3 separate regions of the Homo sapiens genome follow, and regions 1 and 3 are each linked to region 2. Evidence: fine-mapped expression QTL. A gene starts in region 2. Each other region holds a variant in brackets. All regions are shown on one strand. Distances are between the middles of the regions. Region 1 overlaps AP4M1 (adaptor related protein complex 4 subunit mu 1). Region 2 holds the start of LAMTOR4 (late endosomal/lysosomal adaptor, MAPK and MTOR activator 4). Region 3 overlaps ZSCAN21 (zinc finger and SCAN domain containing 21).

The links. PIP is the estimated chance that this variant, and not a neighbour inherited with it, causes the effect.
Region 1: its variant is the best candidate, but not a certain one, in a credible set for the expression of LAMTOR4 in whole blood (TOPMed, PIP 0.88).
Region 3: its variant is the best candidate, but not a certain one, in a credible set for the expression of LAMTOR4 in monocytes (TOPMed, PIP 0.80).

Annotation. Positions count from the first base shown.
Region 1 is chr7:100,105,501-100,108,253 of GRCh38, reverse strand. It overlaps AP4M1 (adaptor related protein complex 4 subunit mu 1), which reads right to left. Exons shown (of 15, transcript NM_004722.4): 11 at 2,715-2,753; 12 at 2,251-2,295; 13 at 1,963-2,013; 14 at 1,740-1,851; 15 at 1-1,596. The coding sequence ends at 1,372. It overlaps TAF6 (TATA-box binding protein associated factor 6), which reads left to right. Exons shown (of 15, transcript NM_139315.3): 14 at 131-328; 15 at 631-1,184. The coding sequence ends at 1,008. Among named protein-coding and RNA genes, the nearest start is that of AP4M1, 5.2 kb to the right of the region's middle. RefSeq lists an enhancer at 407-907. The variant G/A (reference allele first, on the strand shown) is at 1,429.
Region 2 is chr7:100,147,443-100,150,195 of GRCh38, reverse strand. LAMTOR4 (late endosomal/lysosomal adaptor, MAPK and MTOR activator 4) reads right to left here and starts at 1,278. Exons shown (of 4, transcript NM_001008395.4): 1 at 1,221-1,278; 2 at 617-697. The coding sequence starts at 1,223. RefSeq lists silencers at 709-798, 809-898 and enhancers at 438-1,050, 1,199-1,308, 1,579-1,638, 1,663-2,275.
Region 3 is chr7:100,058,105-100,060,857 of GRCh38, reverse strand. The region is part of intron 3 of ZSCAN21 (zinc finger and SCAN domain containing 21); the gene reads right to left. Among named protein-coding and RNA genes, the nearest start is that of ZSCAN21, 9.7 kb to the right of the region's middle. RefSeq lists an enhancer at 1,379-1,498. The variant C/TC (reference allele first, on the strand shown) is at 1,439.

The sequences.
Region 1 (2,753 bases), 42 kb after region 2:
GGCCCTGAGTGAGGATGCCCCAGCCCTAGTGAGAGCCACTGAGGAAGAGCGAGGGGAGCCCAGGCCTCTCCCTTCAGACTCCTCTTCTTAGTAGATGGTGCCACTTCCCCCTTTCCTCTTCTCCCCGCAGCCCCGGCCCACGCTGACCCTCTCGCAGGCCCCACAGCCTGGCCCTCGCACCCCTGGCTTGCTGAAGGTTCCTGGCTCCATCGCACTTCCTGTCCAGACACTGGTGTCTGCACGAGCGGCTGCCCCACCACAGCCTTCCCCTCCTCCAACCAAGTTTATTGTAATGTCATCGTCCTCCAGCGCCCCATCCACCCAGCAGGTATGCAGAGCTGTGGGACAGGGAGCATCTGGAGGGCCTGGGTTACCTCAGAGCACCCTGGGGAGGCCCAGGAGTAGAGCACAGTCCCCTCTGGGCCCCAAGTCAAGAGCTGGAAGAGGCGCCCACCAGGGTCCTGCAGGGCTGTAGCTGCCCTGCATGAACAAGGTCTCCAGCCATAGCTGTCTACAGGGTGAACTACAGGAACAACTTGTTCAGGCAGGGAGCGAGTGAAGCGTCCTCGCCAGGCCTCTGGGGGGCAGGGAGGGCACAGGGCAAGCGGCCTGCCTTTCCTTTCTATCCAGGTCCTGTCCCTCAGCACCTCGGCCCCCGGCTCAGGTTCCACCACCACTTCGCCCGTCACCACCACCGTCCCCAGCGTGCAGCCCATCGTCAAGTTGGTCTCCACCGCCACCACCGCACCCCCCAGCACTGCTCCCTCTGGTCCTGGGAGTGTCCAGAAGTACATCGTGGTCTCACTTCCCCCAACAGGGGAGGGCAAAGGAGGCCCCACCTCCCATCCTTCTCCAGTTCCTCCCCCGGCATCGTCCCCGTCCCCACTCAGCGGCAGTGCCCTTTGTGGGGGGAAGCAGGAGGCTGGGGACAGTCCCCCTCCAGCTCCAGGGACTCCAAAAGCCAATGGCTCCCAGCCCAACTCCGGCTCCCCTCAGCCTGCTCCGTGATGCTCCACCTGCCAGCCCCCGGATTCCCACACATGCAGACATGTACACACGTGCACGTACACACATGCATGCTCGCTAAGCGGAAGGAAGTTGTAGATTGCTTCCTTCATGTCACTTTCTTTTTAGATATTGTACAGCCAGTTTCTCAGAATAAAAGTTTGGTTTGTAAGTTCTGATCCACTGCAGTCCTTCCTGCATCAGATACCACAGAAAGGCTGGGCCCATTGCCCCCTCCTGGTCTTGGGACTGAGGACTCTTCCTGCCCAGATTCAGAGTCCGAAGGCCAGGAGGCTGGAAAAGAAACGACTGTCCTCCCGTGGGACAAACTGCCACCTTGGCCGTCGTGTCCTCGTTTGGGGAGCCTCAGATCCGAATGACATAGGCGTCGCTGTGGCTTAGGTGTCGCACCCACTTGTGGGG[G/A]TTGGCATTGCCGCATGGCCTGAAGGCCAGCCTGAGGAATCGGACCTGGAGGCCAGAGCACGTGTGCCGGGGAAGCTCGAAGGAGAGACTGGCAGGGCCCAGCCCCAGAGGAGAGGCCGAGGTGGAGAGCCCATGGCTGGGAGGTCCTGGGGGCCCTGGGACGTCCATCTGTGAGGGGCAGAGGCAGGGAGAGGAAGGAGGGCAAGAAGCTGACCACGCTGGGGGAACCAGGCAGCAGCTGCTTCGGGAGGGTGGGGTGGGGGCTGCAAGTGAATGTGGGAGGAGAGGGGCTGGGGGTCCACAGCGAATACCTGGAAAAGGCCTGAGAGTTGAGAGCCTCCTTGCACCCGAGGCAGGTCCCAGCGAAGGGCTCCCTCTGCCAGCTCAGCCTTCTGCTCTGGGCTGCTCAGCTCCTGAGACAGGCTGGAGTTTGGAAAGGGAAGGTGCTGGGCTTGGCACCTTCTTGAGGCAGACCCGTCATGCTGAGCTCACTCTCTCCCCAGGAATCTCCCCGTGGTGGGTGCACACACTCACCTGACCACCCCTCGAGGCAGGGGGAGGTGCAGCCTGACATTGAGGGCTTGGCTACAGAGGAGACGGGAACAAAGTCAGCCCCAGGAAGGCACAGTCCCTTGTCCTGTTCCTCTTCAATGTCATAACAGGATTTCAGCACAGGTGCCCCCCACCTTCCCAAATTCTACAGCCTCTACCTTAACTGGCTTCTGAGGCTGGCAGCTGCATCTGAAGGGAGAAGCAGCAGGTGCCCTGGCCCTGTCTTCCGTCCCATAGAGCTGAACTCAGCCAGGCCAGCCTCACTCTTACCTCTTTGAGAGCAGGTCACATCGCAACTTTAGATAAACCTGGAGCCTGGATGAGAGGGTAAAACACCACGACTCAGGCCATCTTCTACTGGCATCTCACCATTCCCCACCAGGGACCTCCATGTGGGGCTGTGTGGGTGTGGGCTGTACTCCCAAGAGGGAAAAGGGCTGAAGCCCAGCCCAACTCCATTAGCCAAAGCTTTTTCCTTTTTTTTTTTTTCAGAGAGATGGGGTCTCACTATGTTGCCCAGGCTGGTCTGGAACTCCTGGGCTCAAGTGATCCTCCCGCCTCAGCCTCCCAAAGTGCTAGGATTACAGGTGTGAGCCACCGGCCGCAACCCAAGCCTTTTTCCAATTTGCACTCCATCACCACTACCACCACCCCCACTCTGCAGTGAGTCTTGGGAACATACAGGTCTTGGCTTGGGTTCCAAGGTAGTTCTAGAACCCAGGAAATTGTCTCACCGGCCTGAGCCTCGGTCCCACTGCACAGAGGGGAAGAGC
Region 2 (2,753 bases):
CTTTAAGAAATACCAAATAAAGGCCAGACGTGGTGGCTCACGCCTGTAATCTAGAGACCTAACACCATACAGTACTATGGAACAAAATACAAATGCCTTTTTAAGAAATACCAAATAAAGGCCAGGCATGTTGGCTCACGCCTGTAATCCCAGCACTTTGGGAGGCTGAGGCAGGTGGATCACCTGAGGTCAGGAGTTTGAGACCAGCCTGGCTAACACGGTGAAACCCCGTTTCTACTAAAAATACAAAAAATTAGCAGAGCATGGTGGCACGTGCCTATAATCCCAGCTACTCGGGAGGCTGAGGCAGGAGAATCGCTTGAACCCCGGAGGCGGAGGTTGCAGTGAGCCGAGGTCGCACCACTGCACTCCAGCTTGGGCAACAAGAACGAAACTCAGTCTCAAAAACTATAAATAAATAAATCGCAGCCGTTAGGAGACTAAGATTCCACAGACTGATTACTGAAAGTAATTGCAAAAACTGCAAATACTTTTGTACCAACCTAATAGATGCCAGGCAGGAAACCAGATAAAAGCCGAGAAAAGAAGGGCCAATATTAGAAGGGGTTACCGGGCTGTGTGCACTAAGGGACCCCCTCCCTTTCCCAGAACGCACCGCCAGCACTGCACCTTCACTCAGTACCAGGTAGCCGAGCTGGTCTGGGATTCGCTCCAGCCCCTGGGTCAGCGCAGAAGTCTAGTGGGTAAAGATGCAAGTCGTGAGAAGCATGCTAGAGGGATGGACGGCCCGATACCCTTCACCTGCAAACCCAAGTCTCTGGGTTGACGATGGCCCCAGGTTTTCTCATTCCCCAGCCAGGTCCCTTCCCGGCCCCCTCCCCCCTACATGGTCCTCAATACTGATCTTCCCGAGCCTCCATCTGCCCCCACTCTCGCCCCCGGGCTCCCCTGGCCTTCCACATCCCACCTTTGCTACCCCAAGGGGCCTTTGCTGCCCCACTGGCCCCTGCCCCCAGACCCTCTCTTCACCTCCCTTCGTCTCCGCCCGACCTGCAGACTACCCGCAGCCCCAGAACACCCTCCCACAGACCCCTCCCCAGCATTCTCGTCGCCATCCCTCCCATTTCCATCCCCTCTTCCTCCCCGAGCGGATAGGAGGTGAGGGTGGAGCGCAGGCCCACCAGGGGGAAACCACACAGACTGGGGAGCAGAGACGCTGAACCCCCGGCGGGTCCTCTCGCGCATGCGTCCTCACTCACCATCGCAGTCTTCGGTGCTGGGGGAGCTCCCTACCAGATAGGTAGCTTCCGGCTTCAGGCCCCGGTCACGTGCTTGCAGCCGCTGCGCTCCTCCTTCTGCTTGCGCCACTGGCCTTTAGCCCCGCCTCTAGCATGAGGATTGGACAGTGGCCACGTCGTCAGACCCAACCAGCCAGTGCGAAGCGCTGTTTCCCGGAGGCGCACGTTGATTGGTGATATCCCCTCTTTAACACCCATCTCCCCGCCCCTCAGTGCCTGAGCGAGAGGAAGACGCGGGAGCGTCCGAGGAGGGGAGGATCTGGGAGGGGCGGGAGTAGGCCGGGGTTGACCGTTTGGTCCTGGGCGCACTGTCTGGAGCCAGAGTTCCGCCTGAGCCAGGATGCCCGCTGGTGTGACCCCCCCAAATGAATCCCTTCCCAGGTTTAAGACTGGACCCAAAAACTAGAGAATAAAAGGAAATAACGTGCAATGCATGTGAAAAACTATTCAAGGCTGGGCGCCGTGGCTCACGCCTGTAATCTCAGCGCTTTGCGAGGCCGAGGACGGATCATTTCAGGGCAAGAGTTCGAGACGAGCCTGAGCAACATAGCGAGACCCTCCCCAGTCCCCCCGCTCCAACCACCTCTACAAAAAAATAAGAAAATAAGCCGGGCATGGTGCCTCACGCCAGTAATTCCAGCTACTAGGGAGGCTGATGGAGGAGAATCTCTTGAGCTCAGCAGTTGCAGAGTGCAGTGAGCTATTATGGTGCCACTGCACTCCAGCCTGGGTGCCCTTCCTCTAAAAAAAAAAGAAAAGAAAAGGAAAAAAAAGGTACTCAAATGCTACTTTTTTTTTTTTTTGAGTCGGAGTCTCACTCGGTCGCCCAGGTTGCAGTGCAATGGCGCGATCTCTGGCTCAATACAACTTCCGCCTCCCGTGTTCAAGCAATTCTCCTGCCTCAGCCTCGCGAGTAGCTGGGATTACAGGCGCCCACCACCACGCCCGGCTATTTTTGTGTTTTTAGTAGAGATAGGGTTTCACCATATTGGCCAGGCTGGTCTCAAACTCCTGACCTCGTGATCCGCCCGCCTCGGCCTCCCAAAGTGCTGGGATTACAGGCTTGAGCCACCGCGTCCGGCCCTCAAATGCTACTTTTGTGCCTACTCAAGACAGCTCTTTGTTGAAGACAAGAATTTGTTCCCGAAGTGGTTTTTTTGTCCCCAGATTCAGTCCGGGACAATGTGGTGGTAAATAGAATCCCCAGCTAGCCAATGCAGCTGCAATACTGAATATTCATTCCCTACAGGAAAAAATTAGAAACAGTACCTTGGAATGATACACACACACACACACACACACACACACACACACATCACACAATATATGTAAACATTAGAAATTTTTGTTTTAAATAATTTCTAAACCTGTTGCCATATTAATGTGGTGGAGGCTGTGTTAGTGAAATAATATGAAGAATGATTCTAGAAGCCTGGGCAACATAGCAAGACCCCATCTCTAAAAATTTAAAAATTAACCAGGCATGATACTGCA
Region 3 (2,753 bases), 89 kb after region 2:
ACGGAGTCCTACTCTGTTGCGCCAGGCTGGAGTGCAGTGGCGCGATCTTGACTTACTGCAACCTCTGCCTCCCAAGTTCAAGCGATTCCCCTGCCTCAGCCTCCCGAGTAGCTGGGACTACAGGTCCCAGGGACAACACGTGCCACCATGCCCGGTTGAGATGGAGTTTCACTATGTTGGCCAGGCTGGTCTCAAACTCCTGACCTCAGGTGATCCGCCTGCCTCAGCCTCCCGAAGTGTTGGGATTACAGGCGTGAGCCACCATGCCCAGCCAGTCTGGTTTTTTTTTTATTTTTTGAGATGGAATCTCACTCTGTTGCCAGGCTGGAGTGCAATGGCGCGATCTTGGCTCACTGCAATCTCCGCCTCCTGGCTTCAAGCGATTCTCCTGCCTCAGCCTCCTGAGTAGCTGGGACTACAGGTGCATGCCACCACGCCCAACTAATTTTTGTATTTTTAGTAGAGATGGGGTTTCACCATGTTGACCAGGATGGTCTCCATCTCCTGACCTCATGATCCGCCCTCCTCGGCCTCCCAAAGTGCTGGGATGACCGGTGTGAGCCATCATGTCTGCCCTCTCCAACTCTTTCCGCCTCCTCTGGAACAGCTATTAAACATACACTGGACCTTCTCATCTGATCCCACACTGATGTCCAATGCCTGCCACCTTGATCTTTCTAAGTAGCATTTCAGATGACTTCCTTCCATCTACCTCTGTTTGCTAATCATGTCCTTCATTATTTAAAACAGCCATTGCATTCTTCATTTCAATGACTACAGTTTTCACTTTTAGAAATTCTATTTTGTTTCTGTCAAAGGTGCCTGTTTGTGTTTTTATTAACAGTTTCTTGGCTGGGCGTGGTGGCTCACGCCTGTAATCCCAGCACTTTGGGAGGCCGAGGAGGGCGGATCATGAGGTCAGGAGTTCGAGACCAGTCTGGCCAACATGGTGAAACCCTGTCTCTACCAAAAATACAAAAATTAGCCGAGCATGGTAGCAGAAGCCTATAATCCCAGCTACTCGGGAGGCTGAGGCAGGAGAATCACTTGAAACTGGAATGCGGAGGTTGCGGTGAGCCGATATAGCGCCACTGCACTCCAGCCTGGGCAACAAGACCGAAACTCTGTTTTTTTAAAAAGAGCTGGGCGTGGTGGTGTGCACCTGTAGTTCCAGCTACTCGGGAGGCTGAGGCAGGAGAATCTCTTGAACCTGGGAGGCAGAGGTTGCACTGAGCCGAGATTGCATAAATGCACTCCAGCCTAGCAACAGAGGGAGACTCCGTCTCAAAAAAAAAAAAAAAAAAAAGACTTTATGCAAAGCTTTCACAGCCAACTTCCCTTTCCTTAGGAGGGCCCAGCAGCTTTGTCTTCTGTCCCATCTGGGTACTAAAACCCAAGCCTGTTCCTGGCTCTGATAATCCTTCCACTCCACCCTCCT[C/TC]TTTGTGTAATACTGCCAAGGGGCTACACCAAGAGATATGGAAAATAAAACTGACCAGATAGGTCTCCGGCTATTTTTATCTCTAATTACTGTGGCAACTCTGGGGAAACCCCAATTGCCTGGAGAGGTCTACTGTGTTCACCATAAACCATGAAGAATTTAGCTAACAGTTTAATTTTTTACTTTTCCTAGAAAATGTGATTTTTAACCGGCTCGAAACTCTGTTTCCATGATGGAGTTTCACGTTTCAGACACAGCAAGCATGGAGGGAGATTTCTGAGGGCCATGGACTCTTGTCATGAAATCACACCACACACATAAATAGTGGTCTACACCACCAACACGTAAGCAAAGTCCTGGTTTGAAACTATTAGGATTTGGAATAATATGCCATATTTTTGCAAACATATAATTAAACATTAACTCTGTTTCAAAGATTTAGTTCTAATCCTTCTGGTAAATGAAGGTACTTAAGAGTAGAACCCATAAAATAACAAAATAACATAGGGCCAGCTTGGGCAACATAGTGAGACCCTGTCTGTACAAAAAAATAAAGTTAGCCAGACATGGTGGTCCCAGCTACTTGGGAGGCTGAGGTGGGAGGATCATTTGAGCCCCAGAGATTGAGGCTGCAGTGAGCTATGATCACGCCACTGCCCTCCAGCCTGGATGACGGATGGAATCCCTGTCTCAGAAAAACACACAAAAACACCCCCACAGGGGATGACCATTTATGGCCTGAGATTATTCTATAAACCATAATATATGGAGATTTGAGCTCAGGAGTAGTCACCTAATACAGCTTTGACTTGTGAAAAATGCCCCACCTCTTTCCATAGCTTCAGAAAGGAGGTTGCCAATTATTTCCCATTTGCCCTTCTCAGATCCATTCTCTGACCCGCCCTGTGCCCCAGGAAGCTGACCCTAAGGGCTGCACTGTCTTGTCTTTCCTGCCCTCTGGCTGCCAACTGAGTTTGTCATTGGGGAACAAAAGCAGGAGATTTAAGGGCAGGAGGAGGGTGCAGTTGGGGTATTTATTCCGTTTTCTCCTCATCCCACAGCAGGGCCTACAGCCACAACTTCTATCAAGTGACCCCCTCCTCCATGACTATAGCTCTTACCTGATTCTGGTAAGAGGGTCCCCCTCTGTCCCTTTAGGCTCACAGGGAGTAACAGCTTTTCACTGTTGTCTGGTGCAACACTATTCCTTATTGGTTCATTTGAAGTCTCTACACCTCTGTTAACAGTTTCTTTTTTAAACTCATTTCAATTGACCCTTTAAAAAAAATTATTTGTAATACTCAGACTTCAAAGA